Regions from separate parts of the Homo sapiens genome. Here region 1 is linked to region 2. The links come from fine-mapping of genetic effects on gene expression. Tissue or cell type: whole blood. Region 2 holds a variant in brackets; the other region holds the start of a gene. All regions are shown on one strand. Distances are between the middles of the regions.

Region 1 (8,530 bases), 630 kb after region 2:
ACTGAAAAACTTGAAAATGAGCCTTTTTCCTATTTCTTGTTCAAGAAGCTGAAAGACAGCAATTCCAGGGAAATCTAGAGACAAAGCAGTAGAGGATGTACAATATCTTTGTCCTCATATGATTTCTTTAATTATCATGGTGTTTCATTATTAATTGCTTTCATTATCACCAACATTTATTGAGTGTTTATATGCTCGGTATATCATCGCATGCATTCTCATAATTTAATCCTCACATCAACCCAGCAATATAGGTATTAACCCCATTTTATAAAGAAACGACAACTCAATGTTAGGTATATTGCCCTATTCAGAGAACTTGAACCCAGGAGACAGTGGTTGCAGTGAGCCGAGATCGGGCCACTGCACTCCAGCCTGGGTGGCTGAGCAAGACTCCATCTCAAAAAAAAAAAAAGAAAATCTCAAAAGGCAAGCTGCTGCCCAAGAACAGGAGTATATGTGGTCGTCCTTGGCTACTTCATAAGGAAAGGGAGAACACAAGGCACAAAGGGAAGAATCACAGCATGTTAAGGGATAGTGAGGGGCTAGGGCAGGAGAAACTCATGGAGGAGAGGGGAGTGAGGAAAGAACTAAGATACCCCAGCCTTTGAGCAACTGACTGCCCTAATCTCCCTGGGACTTAAATACCACATATCTATATATGTGATATATAGGATATATCTATATATCCTAACATCAGTTAAGAGGCAAACAACTTTCTCACTTCTCATAGGTTCGACTTTCTGAATCACCATGGGTTTCCTCCTCTTCCTCTTTCAATTGCAGTTGCCTAAATCTCACCTTCCATTTGTAGTCTGTCAACCCAGTCCTTTCTATTCTATTCCTAATTCCACCACCTTAGTCCATAACCACACCACCTTTCATCTTAAGAGTCGTGATATATCTGTGTGGCTTGTCCAAAACTGCAAAATCATTCAGCTGTACTGCTGAGGCAGATATCCGAGTCTTCGGACTAGGGTATTTCCTCCTGTTTCTTCACACCTGGAATACTTGCAAATCTTCTAAACTAGTTCTCCTTTCATTAATTCATCAGATATCTAGTACATACAAGGGATATGACAGGTATTCTGGGGAATATGGGCTGAAGAAATAGTCCCTAATCTTAAATGTCTAGAATATAAGGGAATAAAGGTGTAGACACAAATAAACCTAATGTAAGACATGGAATAGTAAGAGTTATTTACATAAAATTCCACAGACTACAGAAGAAAGTTCATTTACAGCTGGGATAATTTGGGAGGTGAAATTTGGGGTGGGCCTCAATGGATGACTAAGATTCCAATCAGCAGAAATGGGAGAACTGGCATTATTCCAAACCAAGAACATACAGAAGAAAGTTCATTTATAGCTGGGATAATTTGGGAGAAGGTGGGATTTGAAGTAGGCCTCAATGGATGATTAAGATTTCATGGCCGGGCGCAGTGGCTCACGCCTGTAATCCCAGCACTTTGGGAGGCCGAGGCGGGCGGATCACGACGTCAGGAGATCGAGACCATCCTGGCTAACACGGTGAAACCCTGTCTCTAATAAAAATTTAAAAAAAATTAGCCCGGTGTGGAGGCTGGCGCCTGTACCGAGATCGCGCCACTGCACTCCAGCCTGGGCGACAGAGCGAGACTGCGTCTCAAAAAAAAAAGGTTTCAATCAGCAGAAATGGGAGAACTGGCATTATTCCAAACCAAGAACATACGCAATTACCACCAAGGGGCAAGCAAGTACAGTGACGCAGTAGTCTAGTTTACCTATAAGATAAATAATGAGCAAAGCTGTAAAGGAATAAGACACAGATATTATGGAGGCTGTGAATAACAGGCTGAGAGCCTGAACAAAAGCAAGGTCTGGGGCAGACTACCTGGATACAAATCCTAGCTTCTTCCCTTAACTGCTGTGTGACCTTAGGCAAATTACTTAGCCTCTCTGCTGAGCCTCAGTTTCCTCATCCATAAAATGAGACTAATGGTATCTACCTCACAGGACTGTTAAAATAATTAAATTAGTTAATACATATAAAGCACTAAACACAGGATAAGTTCTGCAGTAAATTATGATGTAGCCAATAAGAAGTAAAATGAGATTTAGATAGAGGACTAACAATATAATCAAAGTAGTGCCTAAGGGAAAGTCACCTCTGAAGATGGAATGGGAGCATGCTAGCCGGCACTACACATCAACACTCCAACCATTAAGTACTTTTGAGACTGACCGAGGGAGACAGAAACAAAAAATAAATTCCTGGGAAATACTGTGGAAGCCAGCCTCCAAGGTGGCCCCTGTGATCCCCACCTCCTGGGGACCCTCTATAGTCTCCTCATACATTGTACCGGGTTGGTCCATGTAATGAATAGACAGGAGATGGGATGTCACTTCTGAGTTTAGGCTATAAAAGACACGGGGACCGATATCTTGTTGCTCTCTCTCTTGCTCTTGGGAAAGCCAGGACCCTGTTGTGAGCTGCCCTATGCAGCTGTCAAGAAACAACCACGTGAGTGAGCTTGGAACTGGATTCTCCAGCTCCAACGACCCTTTATTTGACTGCAGCCTTGTGGGAGATCCTGAACTACAACCACTTAGTTGAGCCGTTCTCAGATTCCTGAGTCTCAGAAACTCTATGATATAATAAACATTTGTTATGAACTGCTTCAGTTTTCAGCAACGTATTACACAATAGACAACTGTACGACTACTAAAAAAAATTGAGTAAAAAAAAAGAGTCTTGAAAAATGACAAGATGAAGAGACCAGAAGTGAACGTCAATTCAAAAATACTAAGATTTCTAAGTCAAGAGAAACTGTTAGGGCCTGGAGGACTAAGGGTGAGATGATGATTATGTGATGCACTAAGTTTGAGCTCTAGGGAAAGATCTAATATAGATCTGAAAGTCATCTATATAGTTAACTTCAATGTATGACATTGTCCAAAGCAAATATGGAACATGTGAAAAAGCACAAGGTCAAAAATTAGAACATGGCACGAACACAGTAAAGAGAAGAAAATGAGCTGTTGCAAGACAGGAAAACAATCATGGATGTTCCAAAAGAAATAAAAGCAGGTGGTGAATGTGTCAAACGCTCCAATGATCAAGTAAACAACTTACACTGGATTTAGCAAATTTATATATTTCCTTGATTTTTTTCACACATTAATGCTTCAGAAATCAGACTGTATCTTATAATCAAGAGGTGCCTGAAATGAATTTCTTTATTCCCTAAAGCCAGTCACAAAACTGATAGTGTGGGCTGATAATCAATGGTATTTGAGAAGCGAGAAAGCATGGTAGTGGTAAAGAAGTTGAACCAGTATATGTGGTCTATTTTTTCCAGGAAGTTTTCAAGTAAAGGCAAGAGTCAAGAAAGGAGGTCCTGTGTTTGCTTTTTAAAAACCGTTTTACTATGAGACAAACGTATTTGAAAGCAAGGAAGTTAGAAGAAACTTTAAAACGATAAAGGACACATGCCATGACAAGCACAATTAGCAGAACAAAAAAGGATGCACTCGCGGATACAGGTGCAATCAAACACCATTCAAGCAACGATTCCTAGGCACCCGCTCCCGTTCTGGAACCCGAGGCAGCGCGGTGCCCACGGATTGGGCAGTCAGCCGCACAGTCCCCTCCGAGTGCGGCAGGAAGAGAGACAGAGTTGACAGTGGATTATCCGCGGAGACGGGTAAAACCACGCCAGGATTCCCTGCGGTTTGGTACATTACACCAGAATCAAAAAGAGACAAGAGTAAGGCCAAGTACCCCCGAGGCGGACATATGCTCCCGCCCGCTGCGTCCCTCGGCGGTCCCACCCCTCGCTTTCCGTACCGCCGCTGAGGGCCCGGCCCGCACGCCTGGACCGGAGCCGGACCTGGGGGCGGTACCCCACTGCGCGGGCTTGCTCCACGCGCGCAGACGGGACCCGCCACCACCTAGCCCTTCACCCCCAACGCCCACCCTCTCTCACCCCAGCACAACGGGGCCAGCCCCGCGCCGGCCCGCCGCTTCCCCGCAACGCGGGAAACGGCGCGGCGCCCACTCCCGCCCCAGAGCCTACCTTAGAGCCCCGAGCGCGGCTGCCGCGGGGCATCTCCGGGAGCGCCGCCTGAGCGCACCGCCTCCTCAGCGCGCCGCCGTCCCACCTCGGCGCGCCGCACCGCGCCCTGCCATTGGCGGGCGCTCGGGCGCAGGGCGGGGCTTCGGCGGGGGGCAGGGCTTCTCCGGCCCCGGCGCTCCAGGGCCTCCCGGATGGCCTAGTCGGGCCCGGAGCCCGGAAGGAGTGCCCCGCGGAGAGTCGAGCTTCCTTCCCCGGGGCTGGGGGTTCCGCGGAGCTCGCTCTGGGCTGTGGCGTTGCTCGCCCGCGAGCTCCTGGGGAGTTCGGGGGAGCTGCTGGGCTGGTGCCTGGAGCGGGGGCCGCCTCCAAGTATTGTCTTTCGAATTAAGTTACTGTCGTCTGTGTTGTCAGGCAACAACTGACCTTAAATAAAAATGAAAACCAGAAGTAGGCTACACATGCAATAGGCTACACATGCAATAATGGATACTTAAGGAATGGGAGTGGCTGCTGGTGACTGGAGCAGAGAGGGTGTGGTTTCCCCATGTTTCGGGGCCGGGGGGAAGGAGTAAAGTCTGTGTTCAGAGCCCAGACGCCATGTCGGTCATCACATCACCGGGAGAACTCGTGGAGCCTGAGGAAAGGCTACGGGGTGCCAGAGTCTGAAGGGGCGGAAGATTGCATTCCTATCACGTTCGCCGTGGCGCACAGGGGCTCCGCTGGGGCCGCCGCTCCCGCAGGAGAAGTGGGCCTGAGACGGTGCGGCGTCGACCATAGCCGGCCCAGCAGAAGCCGGGGAAGGCCACAAGTGTAACTGGGTCCGAGTACTGTGAAGAAGGCGCCTCCCATGGAGAAAGCTACCGGGTAGTTTAACAAGGTGGAAAAGCGTTGGCCTGGGGAGGAGGAAAGGATGCTCAGAAAGTTGCCTCAAAAGGACGCAGAAGTGGAGGTGAATCTTCTGTTTCAGAGGCATTTTTTTGTGCCTCTGTGAGAATGCATTGCTTCCTGGTTGATCCATCTTCAGGTTTTCTCTCCGTCCTAGTCCCTGTTCTGCCACCATTCTGTGTTTGAATCTGGTACCTAAAGCCGCAGATACTTGGTTCATAGTAGATGTCCACTCTGCAGTGGCTGAAAACACGGAAGAAAAACCATCTTTGCCTGGGAAGGACATTATTGCTAGTGCCATTACTGTCAACAGTTGGAACAAGATAAACGGCATGCCCAATCTAGTTGAGGATTTTGGACACCGGGCCTCCCACTGGGACTCCGCCGAGAAACCAGGTCTGCCATTGCCACCTCCGCCGGGCCTTGCTGTCTTAGCACAGTAAGTGCACCCGACCGCGCCCGGAGTCCCCCTTTCACTCCCACAACCAGGCCTGTGGTGAGGCTCCCGCTTGTCATCTCCACCAGGAGGTGCTGTCCTGCCGAAATGTTGGGGTTTTTCTCCAAACTTCCTCCTGTTCAGAATTCGCCATCTCAGTAGTGGCATGGACATCCACCTGGCCACAGCTCACGCAGAAACCTAGGAATTTTTGTGAACACGTTTGTGTGTCTTACTAATGTGTCCACTCTCCACTACCACTGTTTCCCAGGCCACTAGTATCTTTTGCCCAGACTGCTAGTAGCTCTTAACCCATGTCCCCTAATCCACTCTTGCCCCTCACACAGCACACACATACAATCCATTCTCAACACAGACACCACAGTGAGGTTTATGCTGTCTATACTGGCCTTCCCTTTCGGTGGTCAAACGTGCCTAGCTCCTGCAGCCTTGGGGTCTAATAAGCATTTGCTCTTCCTTTTGCCTAAAAGGCTCTGGCCTCCCTCTGCCATGCCATTTCCTATGCGCCTGTCAAACCTGAACCTGGTGGCCAGCTTCCCTAAACTAGCAAGCCTGAACCTCCCTGCTCTTCCATGTCCGCAGGACCTCATGCTCTGTTGAAGATGTTATAACAATTAGAATCTAAATAATTACGAAAGTTATTTGTTTACCATGTGGTTCCACCTCCATGCTGTAAGGTAATACCATTTCTATCTTCTCCGTTTTTGTATCTCTATCAGTTAGCACAGCGTCTTCCATATACAAAGTACTCAGTTATTTACTATGGATGAACTGCTAATTGTGAAACAGAAATGACTTGCCAGAGGCTGCACAGCTAGTAACTGTTCAGGATTAGAACTCATATGTGATACCAAGGTCGATGCATTCTCCACTACACCAATCAGATCATAGTAGAATCATGAGGAATTTTTCACTTGAACATATGAACTCAGCAAAAGGGAACTGTTGATAATAAAGATGAGCCCCTGCAGAAAGGGTCTCTTAAGTCCTCTCCAGTCTTGCCTCATTTCCTCCTCAGCAAACACTCAATGGCAAACATCAAGACAAACCAGAAAGTCCTTCTTTTAACTTTTTTCTCATCAAACTTTTTGGCCTAGTTGCTGTTCTGCAGATATCTGTGGTCTTCACTCTGCTTACAGCCATCCTAAGGATTCCATGGAGATCCATGGAGTCTGGGGAGGGTGTGACTCACAGGAGGGTCTCTGCTGCACCTTCAGGGCAGCTCTCTTCCATCTGTCTTATATATGGGGCAAGATTGTATTTAAAGAAAGATCTAATATGGGGAGAAATGTTTAGAATCTACTCATCCATATTCTTTTTTAGTCTGGTAGATGACAGTGCTCTAGGCTATAAATGAATCCAAGATTTAAACGTGAAAAAATGTCAAGGTATTAGAATAAAACATGACCAGATTCCTTTATAATCTTAGAGTGGGGGAAAGGGGAGAAAGTCTTTCCAACTATGACTCAAAATGTCCTAGTCGTAATAGGAAAGATTGATCGATTCAACTACATAAAAACCCTAATTTATGCATGGCAAAAAAAACACAGTAGGCAAAGACAAATGGCAAAATTAAAGAATAGTTCATATTGATGTTATATAGAAACAGCCCCCTAAAGTATAAATTACTCTTGGAGGAGTAAGCAAGAGTATTCCTTGGGGGAAACCCAGTAGAAAATGGGCAAAGGACAAGGGCAGTTCACAGAGAAAGGAACACAAATGGCTTTTATACATATGAAAAATGTACTGTCTCACTCATGACAAGAGAAATGCAAATTTAAACTGCACACCTACCATATTGGCTAAAATCTAAGTCCTGGACAACACATATTGGGGTAAGGGCCCTCTAATGTATTGCTAACAAAAGTACAAAATTATGCAACTCCTATCAAATATGCTTCAAAATTATAAGTGTATTTACTCTTTAAGCTAGCAGTCCTACTTCTGGAAACTAATCCTACACATACACCTGCACACATATTGTCTTAGTCTGTTTTGTGCTGCTATAACAGAATATCTGAGACTGGGTAGTTTACAAAGAACAGATACTTACTTTCTCACTCTGAGAAATCTGAGATCAAGGAGCTGGCATTTGGTGTCTGGTGTGGGCCTTCCTGCTGCATCTTCACATGGCAGAAGGCAGAAGGGCAAGAAAGCAAGCTAGCTGAATGCTGCGTGAAGCCTCTTATAAGGGCCTTAATCCTATTAGTGATGGAGGAGCCTTCATGGCCTATTTGGCAACACCTGAATTTTAGAGGATACACATATGAAATGATAACACATGTGAAATGATATGTATGTAAGGGTATTTTTTGCAGCATAGTTTGCAATAGCAAAAGACTAGAAAAAATTGATATATTTGTTTACTTGGAGAGTAAGGAGACTGTTAAATGTGCCATGGTAATACCTTCATAATGATCTCCAGCTTTACTAAATGAAAAAAACAATTGACAGAATATGATTCATAGTGTGCTGCCTCTCTAGTGCAAGAAAACAGGAAAAGACCATATATTGCTTATATCTGCTTGAAGAAATGCTACATCGAAATAGATGTATAGGAAATAAAAGGGGTTACCTGGTGGAGGGGAGGAACCAAGTGATTGGGATGAGGGGAGGAGGACTTCTCCATCTCTACTTTTTTATGTTGTTTTGTATACCTATTTTTAAAACAGATTGAAAAATTAAGAAAAATGTGTACTTTGTTCTAGAGTGATGATGGTTGTACAACTGTGAATATTGTAACAAATCACTGAATGGTACACTTTAAAGGGTGATTTTATGGTATTTGAATTATATTTCAATAAAATAATTATTTTAAAAATGTTTGGTGAGGGGCTGGTAGCATCAGCAGCATCTGAGAAATTGTCAGAAATGCAAATTCTTGGACTCCATACTAGACCAATTGAATCAGAAACCTGGTGGACAAGGCCTGGCAATCTGTTTTGACAAGCCCTTCAACTGACTCTGATGCATGCTCACCTGTGAGAAGCACTGGACTGGATGCAATTGCACGGAGTAACAGGCTGTTGCACAGTGGTCTCCCACAAAACATCCGACTAGGAGATCCGTGCACTCAGGGTGGGAAGAAAAGGCCTTGTCAGCCTTTTCTTTAATCATTGACTACAATAATGTT
Region 2 (8,000 bases):
GAGTGCAGTGGCGCGATCTTGGCTCACTGCAAGCTCATCCTCCCGGGATCATGCCATTCTCCTGCCTCAGCCTCCCTAGTAGCTGGGACTACAGGTGCCCGCCACCACGCCCAGCTAATTTTTTGTATTTTTAGTAGAGACGGGGTTTCACTGTGTTAGCCAGGATGGTCTCGATCTCCTGACCTCGTGATCCGCCTGCCTCGGCCTCCCAAAGTGCTGGGATTACAGGTGTGAGCCACCGCGCCCGGCTGAGAATAATTCTTAATATAAGTTATCTCAGTTCTTGGAATACATCAAAATACATGTTATCAAAATTATTTTTAACGAGGTCAGTTGACAGTTTGGATTGACTTTCCTTAAATTATGTTGGAAACAAAGAATTAGAAACCATGAGACTTACAAAAAGGCTTTCCTACTCAATTGTTGCCTTTACTCTTTCAACAGTGTACAAGTATTTTAAATTGTCCCTTGGCACTCTAAAGGGCTGTGCACCTTGGAGTAATAAACTACAGTTAGACTGGAGAGAGGTGAGGGTGGGTCTGTCTTTCATTAAGCAGGAGAGTCCTGATGAACAACCTGAGATGGGAAAGGAGAACAAGCTCCAGGGTGTTTTCAGACAAACGAGTTTTATGACAAAGCCCGTTTGAGGATTGATCTGAAAGTTGATTCCATAAGATGACTGGTGCCTGTCCACACCTGCTTGAAGACTGCTCCATAATTTGTCTCTGTCCTTTGAAGGACAGGATTTTTTATTTTTTCATTATTAATAACATTCATTATTGATAACAGTGCTAAAAAGAAGATTCTTACAACCACATCTCTTCAATTCTGCAGTCATTTCATTAGGTTAAAATTTCAGTGCTGGATCAAAGCATAATGAGTTTTTAAACATTTGATAGAAATTGGCATGCATATTTTTAAAAACTTGGTACGAATTGCCAAATTGCCCTTTAAAATGAGCATATTAATTTATCTTCTCACATGTAATGTTTGGGAATAAAGACCTGACTTTCCATCAATGTGTCCTTTGATATGAGAAAAAATAAATGCCACTTTATTCAGCTATTATTAAGCTGTTTGTTTCTTTTGAAAAATTTTGAATTTTTGCTGAACGTATACCATGCCTATACTTACAGAAGCAATTTTATGTTAATCTTAGTGGAGTTGAAAGGAAGCATATATTAATACTTTAATATAATTGCTTCTAGGTACTGAAGCCCAGTCTTCACTTTTGAAAGCAGTGGCTTTCTTCTTAGAAAGCATTGCCATGCATGACATTATAGCAGCAGAAAAGTGCTTTGGCACTGGGGCAGCAGGTAACAGAACAAGCCCACAAGAGGGAGAAAGGTACAACTACAGCAAATGCACCGTTGTGGTCCGGATTATGGAGTTTACCACGACTCTGCTAAACACCTCCCCGGAAGGATGGAAGGTAGGCTGCTCTGTTAATTTGAGGTCAGTTTTTGGTACTGGAAAACTACTTCAAAGGTTTCTGTTAGAAGGGGTTTTGGCTTTTAATAAAAATTTATCATTATTATTATTATTATTATTATTATTATATTTCATCCTCTCAACCCAGCTTTTCCTGACTTCAGGAAGAACCAGGAAGAGAAGGCTAGGTTTTGGCTTTTCTAAAACTTTGCATTGTCAGAAGTTATATGTCAAAATCAATTTGTCAATTTGTTTTAGTTGACAAAAACTGTATTTATGGTATACAGCATGATGTTTTGATATGCTCTGCCTTGTGGTATGGCTAAATCAAGCTAATTAACGTATCTGTTACCTCATATATGTAACATTTTTTCTGATGGGAACTTTTCAATCTATTTTCTTAGCAATTTGCAAAATTACAATGCATCGTTATTAACTACAGTCATCATGATGAATGATCTATTGAAAATCATGAAACTTTGCATGTCCTTCAGAGTTTCACTGTGTGAATAAAATATAAAATAGTTTTTTCTAATTGTTTTATTGGATGCTGTATTTTATGCTATGATCAAACATCTACCTTAGGAAACACACACTCGCAAATATTTATAGATGTATCCATGAGGCTTATTGTATAAACAAACTCCAGTCAGTTCATTCAGGGAATCTCTGCCAGGTGCCTGTGGCACGCCAGGCCCTGGGATGCAGCAGTGTCCTGAGTCAGGGGCGGGGAAACCCTGTCCATGGACACAACCTCACCTGCTGCCTGCTCCGTAGATAAAGCTAAATAGGAGCATGGCTGTGCGCCTCTGTCCACCTGTTGTCTGTGCTGCTTTCTTATCAGACGCGTAAGGAGTTGAAGCAGAGACTGTCTAGCCCACAAACCTCAAGTGTTTACTGTGCCCCCGTTTTACAGAGAAACTCTGCCCACCTCTCCCTTAGTCAGGCAGAAGTTCCCAACCTTGTGGGCCCTGCACTTTGGTGAAAATAGAAGTGCTGGCTGACGAAGTGTTTTTATCAAACAATCTGTTACAGCTCCTGAAGAAGGACTTGTGTAATACACACCTGATGAGAGTCCTGGTGCAGACGCTGTGTGAGCCCGCAAGCATAGGTTTCAACATCGGAGACGTCCAGGTTATGGCTCATCTTCCTGATGTTTGTGTGAATCTGATGAAAGCTCTAAAGATGTCCCCATACAAAGATATCCTAGAGACCCATCTGAGAGAGAAAATAACAGCACAGAGGTGGGTACTTGGGTCACAATCGGGGACATGTTGTCCTGGAATTTCAGGCCCTAGTATGTTGCCGTGCTCCTGCAGCTGCTCCTGCTTCCTCAGGGAAGGCTTATATCAGTGGGATGTTTGCTGCCAGTGACCTCAATAGTTGTTTAGAAAACACATTTAACTAGTGCCTTCCCTGTACCAAACTTAAGCAAACTTCAGACATGGTTAGCGCCATGTTTGATCTCCATGCTAGCTTAGTGCGTGTGGATCCTGTTAGATGTTGCCTCTGTTTGCTTCATAACAGTGCAAACATTTTTTTCAGTGTATCTTGATAATTTAACGAGATCAGAGCTCACCTAATTTACTGTTTTGTCACATGGCCAGCATTGAGGAGCTTTGTGCCGTCAACTTGTATGGCCCTGACGCGCAAGTGGACAGGAGCAGGCTGGCTGCTGTTGTGTCTGCCTGTAAACAGCTTCACAGAGCTGGGCTTCTGCATAATATATTACCGTCTCAGGTAACTATAACTTATTGTTTTTACATTTATTTTAGCTTTAGTATGATAATTAGTGTATTTATTTATATTATTTCTTAAAAGTCCTTTATGTATTGAGCATGCTGAAATGGGAATTATAGAAATACTTGCTCAAGACATGTAGATATTATGTATCTGTATATCTATGATATATCAATATAAATATGAAAGCAAATGTAAAAATTTATAAATATAAAATGAAAGTAAAATAAAGGACATTTAGGTATTTACAGAGCAGCTTTCTGAAAAACTTTAGGAACTGCTGTTGTGCCTTTGTGGCAAGACAACACAAATGAAGAATCTAGCATAGAAAGCAAGGTTGAGCCAGATACAGTGGCTCATACTTGTAATCCCAGCACTTTGGGAGGCTCAGATAGGAGGATTGCTTGAGGCCAGAAGTTTGAGACCGACCCAGGCAACATGGCAGGAATTCATCTCTACAAACAATTAAAAAACAACAACAACAAAAAAAAACATTGTCCAGGAGTGGGTGCCGCGGACCCGTAGTCCCAGCTACTCAGGAGGCTGAGGTGGGAGGATTGCTTGAGCTTGGAAGCCTGAGAATGCAGTGAGCCACGATTGTGTCACTGCACTCCAGCCTGGGCGACAGAGCAAGACCCTGTCTCACAATAGCAAGAACAACAAAAGCAAAGTTGAATTAAAATTTTTCTGAATATTGGAAGGTAGTTGTCAGTGCTATCTGAAGTGGGTTTTTTATTTAATGAGAGGAGTGAAGTTGTTTTTTTCTAAGAAATATCTTTTTGCTAGGCATTTCAGTGTTGGCTTCCTTTTAGTCCACAGATTTGCATCATTCTGTTGGCACAGAACTTCTTTCCCTGGTTTATAAAGGCATTGCCCCTGGAGATGAGAGACAGTGTCTGCCTTCTCTAGACCTCAGTTGTAAGCAGCTGGCCAGCGGACTTCTGGAGTTAGCCTTTGCTTTTGGAGGACTGGTAGGAAAAACGCCTCTGCATGCTGCACTCCCCTAATAATAGAAATACATATGTCACTTGCAGGTGTCTCTAGAAACTGTGGAATTTGGGTAGTAAGGTTTTAGCTGGACAAGTATTGTATGATTTGCATGAGCCAACTTTCTAAAAGATTATTTTCTCAATAGTTAAAAAAAAAAAGAACGGAATAGAACAACATTCTTTTTAAATAGAGGTTTTGTCTATCCCACTTTGTTTCCAAAAGGAATTAGCTAGAGAACGTTTTGTGACTATGAAGCTGAGTCATGTTGACATGTGGCCTCTTCTCCTCTCCTTGGTGGTCCTTCACATGGATGATTGGGAGGGCCTCTGAAGGATAATCCCAGAGGAACCAGAGTCTCCAAAAAAATATTCTCATG[G/T]CTCTTTGAACCATGCAGGGCTGGCCTTAAATAGTCCCTGCTGTAGCTGAAATCTGCAGCCAGCCCTCTGTGTTCACTCCATCCCAACTTTCTTTCTTCTGTAGCAGAAACCCCTTTTTCACCCCTTTGTCCGATTAATGTAAACAATTACATATTTAAATTGTCTAAAAATACTCACCCTTAATAGACTATCCTCAAAGCAACAACACTGGGGTAGGCAGATGGCTTGAGCCCAGGAGTTTGAGACCATCCTGGACAACATAGCGAGACCCTGTTTCTACAAAAAAATTTAAAAAATTAGCCAGGTATGGTGGCACATGCTTGTAGTCCCAGCTACACAAGAGGCTGAGGTGGGAAGATCGCTTGAGCCCAGGAAGTCAAGGCTGTAGTGAGTCATGATCATGCCACTGCACTCCAGCCTGGGCAACAGAGTGACACCCTGTCTTTAAAAAACAACAAGGCTGGGCAGGGTGACTTATTGCCTGTAATCCTAGCACTTTGAGAGGCCAAGGCGGGTGAATTGCTTGAGGTCAGGAGTTCGAGACCAGCCTGAACTACATGGTGAAATGCTGTCTCTACTAAAAATACAAAAATTAGCCAGGTGTGGTAGAACGCACTTGTAATTCCAGATACTCGGGGGTGCTGAGGCCGGAGAATTGCTTGAACCTAGGAGGTGGAGGTTTGCAGTGAGCCGAGATCGTGCCACTGTACTCCAGCCTGGGCAACAGAGCGAGACCCTGTCTCAAAAAATAAAACACAACAACAAGACTTTTGGACATTTGGAAGAAATATGGGTCAAGGAAGATTTCTTTCCCAAAATGAAACCTAGAAAATGGAGGCTAGTTGAAATATATACAATTTCAGCTTGAATCCAGGCTTCACATATCAGGCTCTTTTTAGACCTGTGTCATTTTCCAATTTCAAAGTTATCAGTTGCCCAAGGGTCTTTCTGTGCCATGCAAAGATGTGCCCCAGTTATGGTACTTCTCCTTTCTTTTTCCCAGTGTGAGCGCCTTGTGAGTCTTCTCCTGAACCCAGCGGTGCTGTCCACGGCGTCCTTGGGCAGCTCACAGGGCAGCGTCATCCACTTCTCCCATGGGGAGTATTTCTATAGCTTGTTCTCAGAAACGATCAACACGGAATTATTGAAAAATCTGGATCTTGCTGTATTGGAGCTCATGCAGTCTTCAGTGGATAATACCAAAATGGTAACAAAGTTTCCCTTTAAATAAACTGTTTTTTTTGTTTGTTTGTTTGTTTGAGACAGAGTCTTGCACTTTCGCCCAGGCTGGAGTGCAGTGGCACGATCTCTGCTGACTGCAACCTCTGCATCCCAGATTGAAGCGATTCTCCTGCCTCAGCCTCCCGAGTAGCTGGGATTACAGGCACCCGCCACCACACCTAGCTAATTTTTTGTATTTTTAGTAGAGACGGAGTTTCACTATGTTGGCCAGGCTGGTCTTGAACTCCTGACCTCGTGATCCGCCCAGTTTGGCCTCCCGAAGTGCTGGGATTACAGGCGTGAGCCACTGCACCCGGTCAATATTTTCTTATATAATCCTTATAAAAGGGTTGCCATATTCCTGAAATATTTCATTAAAGTATGACAAGACTTTTTCCTATAAGGTTGAAAGCTCTTGCTTTTAACAAACTCAGAAAAACCCAAAACATACCCCTTATCAATAGTTAATGAATATTAGGCCAGGCATGGTGGCTCATGCCTGTAATCCCAGCACTTTGGGAGGTGGAGGTGAGCGGATCATCAGAGGTCAGGAATTCAAGCCCAGCCTGGCGAACATGGCAAAACCTTGTTTCTACTAAAAATACAAAAAATTAGCCAGGCATGGTGGTGTGTGCCTGTAATCCCAGCTACTCAGGAGGCTGAGGCAGGAGAATTTCTTGAACCTGAGAGGCGGAGGTTGCAGTGAGCTGAGATCATGCCCACTGCACTCCAGCCTGAGTAATGAAGCGAGACTCTGTCTTAAAAAAGTAAGAAATAGCTAATGAGTGTTATTGGATGTTAAAACATTGATTGTTTTTTCTATTCCCTTATGCTTTGCAAATTTCTAAGCCTAAATATTATAAGGCACAGCTATGCAGGGTATTGACATTTGCCAAGATGTGGCTTTGGAGCTTACAAACCCGTCCTGGGGCCCAGAGCTGGCTTTGCATTCATACCAGCTGCAGGCAGGTCTCTGCACCCCGGTAGACCTCTCTGTTCTCAGAGTTCTCTTGTGGCCTCGATGCTGAGTTATCATTTCTGGCATGTTCCTGCTGTGTCCCCCTTTCTCCCTGGAGATCAGTATTTAATATATAGTTGACTTTCGTTTGCTAAACCTCTGGGATTTTGAAATTTAACTTGTTCTGTGGACAGAAACTGTTAACTGTTGATATGACCATTTTAAGGGAGAGTACATGATGTCCTAAGTTGAGCTTTTATTGCAAACAGTGCTTTTCTGTTGTAGGGGAATCTTTTGTGGTAGATTGCAGTAGGAATTTGTATTCTTTAAAATTAGAAATAAAATCGTAGTAGATGACACTCAGATTTAACATTCTGATTTCTTAAACTATGACCTCTGATGGAAATGATAGAAAAAACATACGCCTTTGACCTCTATTCCTTCCCTAAATTCCTCTAAAGTAACAGAATGAGATTTTTAAAACACCTCTACAATCTCAAAGGACACAGAGAAAAGGACTTCCAAGAGTGACAAGAGTTGTAAATCAAAAGGACAGGTGTGGCAGACTGCATGCAGAGTTTGAGATAGCAGCGAGGTGATGCAGCCTTCGGAAGTTGGGGTCCACACGTGCTGAGCCCCAGCAGGGCAGACATGCGAGCAGGGGTGAGCAGAGGCTGAGAAGAGAGGATTGGGCAAAGGCCAGCTCTCCCCTGCAGGGCAGCCTCCTGTCTCTGCTGCTGGGGGTCTGATCCTCCCCACTTGAGGAGAAGGCAGGAGGCAGTGACTCCCTGGAGAGGATAGAGACCTCCAGACTGGGGGCTCTGGCATGGCTGAATATGTGGATACCATCAGGAAAAGAGGAAAGTTAAGTACTAACCTACCTAAATTCTAGACTTTCAGGCTGTCTGCCCTTTCCCTCTGAATACTTTCAGTTCAGCATCTGCCCTTGGCAGGGCACCAGAATATCCTGACAAGCCCTAAGAGAAAATAAAGATGCAGGCATCATAGCCAGCTGGGTCAGTGACAGTGATCCTCCCCACCAGCGAGCCCTGCACGCTGCACAGCGCTTCCAGGCAGGTGATACCTGTGAGCCGGCAGCCCAGGGGCTCAGGCACCTGAGGAAAGGGACGCCAGAGGGCGTAGCGGGACACAGGCAACTGTGGCAAGGCCTGTTCAGTGAGATGGAAATGTAAGCTGGAGAAAAAAAACTGAAAGATGAGAGACAAAACTGTGAAATAAGAATTGCTATGGAGAATGAACATCAGAGAACAAAAAAGGCTCTT

What was found.
Region 1: SPIDR starts here. The variant in region 2 is fine-mapped to the expression of SPIDR in whole blood (TOPMed, PIP 0.94).

Annotation. Positions count from the first base shown.
Region 1 is chr8:47,256,520-47,265,049 of GRCh38, reverse strand. SPIDR (scaffold protein involved in DNA repair) reads right to left here and starts at 4,112. Exons shown (of 20, transcript NM_001080394.4): 1 at 4,059-4,112. The coding sequence starts at 4,091. RefSeq lists a silencer at 3,849-4,398.
Region 2 is chr8:47,883,689-47,891,688 of GRCh38, reverse strand. It overlaps PRKDC (protein kinase, DNA-activated, catalytic subunit), which reads left to right. Exons shown (of 86, transcript NM_006904.7): 32 at 1,209-1,432; 33 at 2,467-2,675; 34 at 3,039-3,171; 35 at 3,984-4,142; 36 at 5,542-5,745. Among named protein-coding and RNA genes, the nearest start is that of PRKDC, 72 kb to the left of the region's middle. The variant G/T (reference allele first, on the strand shown) is at 4,538.